2 separate regions of the Homo sapiens genome follow, and region 2 is linked to region 1. The links come from fine-mapping of genetic effects on gene expression. Tissue or cell type: nucleus accumbens. Region 1 holds a variant in brackets; the other region holds the start of a gene. All regions are shown on one strand. Distances are from middle to middle.

What was found. PIP is the estimated chance that this variant, and not a neighbour inherited with it, causes the effect.
Region 2: it holds the start of LINC00658, and the variant in region 1 is fine-mapped to the expression of LINC00658 in nucleus accumbens (GTEx, PIP above 0.99). The same link has a PIP of 0.9 or more in caudate, cerebellar hemisphere, cerebellum, cerebral cortex and putamen.

What each region holds. Positions count from the first base shown.
Region 1 is chr20:5,503,351-5,506,264 of GRCh38, forward strand. It overlaps LINC00654 (long intergenic non-protein coding RNA 654), which reads right to left and starts at 1,246. Exons shown (of 2, transcript NR_015406.2): 1 at 948-1,246. RefSeq lists an enhancer at 992-1,101. The variant G/A (reference allele first, on the strand shown) is at 1,341.
Region 2 is chr20:5,444,336-5,447,249 of GRCh38, forward strand. It overlaps LINC00658 (long intergenic non-protein coding RNA 658), which reads right to left and starts at 1,413. Exons shown (of 5, transcript NR_038240.1): 1 at 1,169-1,413.

The DNA.
Region 1 (2,914 bases):
TAAAAATACAGAAAAAATTAGCCGGGCGCAGTGGCGGGCTCCTGTAGTCCCAGCTACCCGGGAGGCTGAGGCAGGAGAATGGCGTGAACCCGGGAGGAGGAGCTTGCAGTGAGCCGAGATCACGCCTCTGCACTCCAGCCTGGGCGACAGAGCAAGACTGCGTCTTAAAAAAAAAAAAAATCACATAGTTCAATTTTTTTTTCTTCTGACTGAAATTGACACTCTTTGGTGGGCCTGTAAGTTTCCTGGCCCTGGTCACTGTGCCCACCCTGCCCATGGCTAAGGGGTCCTAGCAGCAAGCATGTATGTGGCTGGCCCCTACACCCTCCCACTCTGCCAGAGATTTTTTCCAAAAGGAATCTCCCTGCACGGAGGGCGGAGCTCGAGATCTCCATGTCGCGGGGTGGCTCCGAGGTCACCACTGCCCAGCATGTCTCTGGCTGCTGACAGGACTCTGTGCTTTCTTAACTCCTTGATGGAGTTCCTGGAGTTGGAGGGAAGCGCTTCCCACCAGAAACCCACTTGTGTCGGTTTTTCTTCCATTCGAAACAAATGATCAAAGTGATAGCGTTTTCTATGTTACGTGTCTGTCTCTGGTCACTTAAAAACAAAACAGAGCAGGGTGTCCCCTGACAGCCCAGGAGAAGAACAGGAAGGCAGCCCTGGGGTTACCTGTCAAGGTTCAGATCATGACCTCCGCAACGGCCACGGCTGGGTGACATCGTCACTCCCCAGGGGACAGGCGATCCCCTCCTCACCCCACAGCTCAGACCCCAGGATCGGCCCCAATCCCTGTGTCCTGAGCTCCTCCTACTTCCCCTTTCCATCCCAGCCAGCTCCGAAGGAGGCCGGCCCTGTGAGACAGGGAGGGGTCCAGCCTGGGACCCGGCCTGAGCCGGGAGGGAGGGCTTGTCTTGCTCCGGCCCCTGTGATGAGTCCCCTCTTACCCGGCAGGTGGTGACTCCCCATCCGCGGAGGCTCCCCCGCTGACCCCAAGTCCCCACCGCTCTGTCCTTCTCCAAGGCCCGGTGCAGGAGCACCCTTTGTCCCTGGGTGGCCTGACCCTGCTGACCACGGGTCACCTCCCTGACCACGAATACTCTGCCAACTGCCTCCTGAGTGACCGAGACAGCTCAGTCTAGAGTCTCGACTACCCGGGGTGACCCAATAGTCCCGACTCCCCGAGACAGGGACCCGGAGACGTGGGCTTTGTCAGTTTAACAGATTCTGCCTCCGGGAACCAACTGCCGGGAGATTCTGATTGGCTCAGCCGCGTGCCCACGTGACCGACCAAAACCGGCCACCAGGGTCTCCCAACTGCCTGTCAAACGCACAGCCCT[G/A]TTGGGCCCCCGGAGAGGAAGAGCCGAGAAGGAGGCCAGGCCGGGGGTCAGGTGGCTTCCTCTATGGGCCCTTTAATCCACCTCACTTTTTTATCTTCTTTTTTTTCCCAGCAGCTTTATTAAGTTATAATTCACACACGATGTAATTCGCCCATTTAAAATGTACAATGGGCCCGGCGCGGTGGCTCACGCCTGTAATCCCAGCACTTTGGGAGGCCGAGGGGGCAGCGGGGATGGGGGTGGCGGGTCACCTGAGGTCATGAGTTCAAGACCAGCCTTGCCAACATGGCAAAACCCTGTCTCTACTAAAGATACAAAAAATATCCAGGCATAGTTGTGTGTGCTTGTAATCCCAGGTACTCGGGAGGCTGAGGCAGGAGAATCGCTTGAACCTGGGAGATAGAAGTTGCTGTGACCTGAAATCGCACCACTTCACTCCAGCCTGGGTGACAGAGTGAGACCCTGTCTCTAAAATAAAATGAAATAAAATAGAATATACACTGGTTCTTAGTATAGTCACAGAATTGTGCAATCATCGGCACCATCTAATTTGAGAACATTTTCTATATATATGTAGAGAAAGGGGTCTTGCTATGTTGTCCAGGCTGGTCTTGAACTCTTGGGGTGAAACCATCCTCCTTCTTCAGCCTGTGCAATACCTATGCTTGCACGGGTGCAAGCATCAGCATTACAGGCATGAGATGCCTCACCTGGCCCAGAACTTAGTTTTTTACTGAAAAATATTCCCTTGTATGCATATATGATATTTATCCAGTCATCAGCTGATGGACTTTTGAACTGTTTCCACTTCTGTTTATTATGAATAAAGCTGCTATGAGCATTTGTGTAGAAGTTTGTGTAGATTTATGTTTTCATTTCTGCTTATATAAGTAGGAGTATAATTTCTGGGTCAAAGTATAACTGTGTAGTTTTTGAGAGGAATTGCCAACCTGTTTCCCCTCTTCTTTTTTTTTTTTTTTCTTTTTTTTTTTTTTCAGAGATGTGGTCTCACTCTGTCACCCAGGCTGGAGTGCAATGGCACAAACACCACTCACTGCAGCATCAACCTCCTGGGCTCAAGTGACCCTCCTGTCTCAGCTCCTTAAGTAGCTGAGACTACAGGAACATGCCACCATGCCTGCATAATGTTTTTTTGTTTGTTTCTTTGTTTGTTTGTTTGTTTGTTTGTAGAGACAGGGTTTCATCATGTTGCCCAGGCTGCTCTCGAACTCCTGACCTCAGGCAATCCACCCATCTTGGCCTCCCAATTGCTGGGATTACAGGCATGAGACACAGCACCTGGCCGCCAATCTGTTTTCTAAAGTGGCTGCACCATTTCACATTCCCACCAGCAGTGATGAGGGTTTTTTCCTCCATCCTTGCTAACACTTGTTCTTGTCTGTAGATTTTATCATAGCCATCCTAAGGGGTAGAAGGTGGCATCTCATTGTGCGTTTGATTTGCCTTTCCCTAATGACTAATGGTGTTGAGCATCATATCATGTGATTATTGGCAATTTGTGTATTATCTTTGGAGAAATGTCCATGCACATTTTTCACTCATTTTTCACTTAG
Region 2 (2,914 bases), 59 kb before region 1:
TTGTTGGGAAACAAGTGCCAGGTAGTCTGTGACATTCAAGGCCCTGATATCCTAAGAGTAAGGAAGAAATAGTGTTTAACAATATTCATCAGAGCAGTGGAGTATAAGAAAAGTCCACATATGTTCTGTGAGTCAGCATGCTGGGACTGAATTTCTAACCTCCTGGTTCTTAATTTCCTCATCTGTATAATGAGAGACTTGTTGAAGATCTTGCTAATATTCTACAGTGGGTTTTAATTTTTTTACATACTTGGTGAAAAAAAAAACAAAACCTCATTTTTTCCCCTCAATCTGATACTAGCTGGTCTAAGTCTCCATCCTTCAGGTTAGAGGAGCACTTTCCCTCAGTCATGTTTTCTACGAATCTCTAGGTGTCTTGCAGTCTAGAACATTCAAGTAAGGATTCCTGGTCCTCTGAACACTTTGGTCCCTTTTAAAGGTCCATGGCGCCGGCTACCTTGAAGAGGCAACTTGGATGTTCTCCAGACAAACTTGGACATGGGAATGTTCAGAAAAATGGGAGTTTGCGCTCTGGGGGTCCTGGTTCTCTGGTTAACCCATCTGAGGTCCAACTACCCTCTGGAGAACAGCAAGGAGACAGATTTGTTCTCTGTGATTCTTAGAGATGGGTCCCAGTCTTGGGAAGCAATGGAAGCCTCTTTCCTTTCCCATTAGGGCCATTTACACCTTTCCCAACTTTTGGTTTCTTTCTCCGGGCCATACACTGAATCCATTGTCATCATATGCTTAATTTTTCTATCACATAAGCCCTCAGTGAAGGATGTCTTCTGGGTGTCTAAAAACATTCTGTTTTTAACCATATGTCAGTTTATCTTTGGTTGTGTGCTGAACATGGTATTTGTAAAATACTTGTTGAAATAATTTGAGGGCAAGGATAATGTTACCTTCCTCTGAGGAGGATTTGATTTGTCTTTGCAAGGCACCTCAGGGAGCTTGCAATTCAAGATCAGGTTAATTCAAGCACAGGACTTTTTACCAAGCAACTTAGAAATATTTAAATAATTGAACAATTGATACAGCTGTACAGGTGCCTCCCAAATGAATATCAGCCCTAAATGCCCCCAATACTTAGGTTAAGTTCTTGTTAATATGGCTATATAACATATCACTCCCAAATTTAGGATTTGAAACAATAATTATTTCTCACGGTTTCAGTGGGTTAGCTCAGAAGCAGCTCAGCTGGGTGGTTCAAACTCAGGGTCTCTCATGATGTTGCAGTCAGATGTCAGTAGGAACTGGAGGCTCCAATTCCAAGGTGGCCCACTTACAAGGCTGGCAAAGTGGTGCTGGTGATTGGCAGGAACCCTTAATTCTTCTCCATGTGAATCTGTAGATGGAGCTGCTCGAGAGTCCTTGGAGAGCGGTGGCTGGCTTCCGCAGAGAGAGAGATCTAAGAGGTGGAAGATACAATGCCTTTTGTGACCTAGCCTCGGAATTCACACCCCATCACTTCCTCCACATTCTATTGGTCACCCAGAGCCAGCCCTGATTCAATGCGCAAGGGAACTAAGAAGGACATGAATACGAGGAGGCAGGAACCATCACAGGCTGTCTTGCAGACTGGTTACCACACACAGAAATTGGGACTTGAATCCAGGCCTCTCTGATGTCAAAGTCCTTGTACTTCACTGTGCTGCCCTCCCCAAGCAGCCTCTTGAATCTGTGGATCCCTCTAAGTGTAATGTCACCTTCAGCCTGCAACAGTACAGAATGGATAAAGTAGTGATATTAAACATGCTGTAAGAGAAGAAGAGAAGCCTAGGCTCCTTGAGCATGATTATAAAATGGGGACCAGTGAGGAGAGGATAGCCTCAAGAAGAAGAATTGAGAGGGGCTTGGTTAACTATCCCTAACTGGACATTCTGCTTTTTGCTGTTCCTGGCATCAGCTATCAGAAAGTCTCTGTGGGTGAGTTTCTGAGCACTCTTTTATGCCATTAACTACACTCTTGCGAAGCTTCTGTTTGAAGGGTTTGGATTTTCTTAGGCAGTGCCAGGTTTTCAGAATAGAAATTGACTGGTTTCTCCCCCAGAAAGTCTATAGCCTACCGTGTTTAACCCCAACCTCTAGTAATAGCTCAATCCACGCTGATCCCCCAGGGTTTGCAGAACAGAGTCTCGGTTGCAAACACTGCAATCAGCAGCTTGCTGTTTTTCTCTTTTTCTTCCACTTTATTTTATATTGATATTTAATGAATGTTTCTTTGGTGGTATTGCTATGTTCATTATTTAAACTCTGAAAATTGAAGCCATAGAAAATAATTGTTGATTCACCACAGGGAGCCATATAAATATTGTTCTAAATTCTAATGACCATGACCATTGGGATTATTTTTTGTGAAGCATAATTTCCATTATTTTGAAAGCCCTCAAGTCAGTATCTTAGAAGGGCAGCTGTTTTCTTGGCTATTTTCAATAGGTTTTTCTTCTTTCTTCATTTTTCCTTCCCTCCTTACCACATTAGACACCCTCCTTTTATTTCTTCCCTTGCCATTGTATTGTTTTTTGTTTGTTTGTTTTTGTTTGTTTTTGAGACAGATTCTCACTCTATCACCCAGGCTGGAGTGCAGTGGTGAGATCTCAGCTCACTGCAACCTCCGTCTCCCGAGTTCAAGCGATTCTTCTGCCTCAGCATCCCGAGTAGCTGGGACTACAGGCGCACGCCACCATGTCCGGCTAATTTTTGTATTTTTAGTAGAGACTGAGTTTCACCATACTCTCCAGGCTGGTCTCAAACTCCTGACCTCGTCATCTGCACGCTTTGGCCTCCCAAAGTGCTGGGATTACAGGTGTAAGCCACCACGCCCAGTCTGTATTGTTATTTTTATTGCTATTGTTAATATAAACGAGGCCTCAGGACTTAGAGCTTCACAACTAAATAATACCTGTGTACA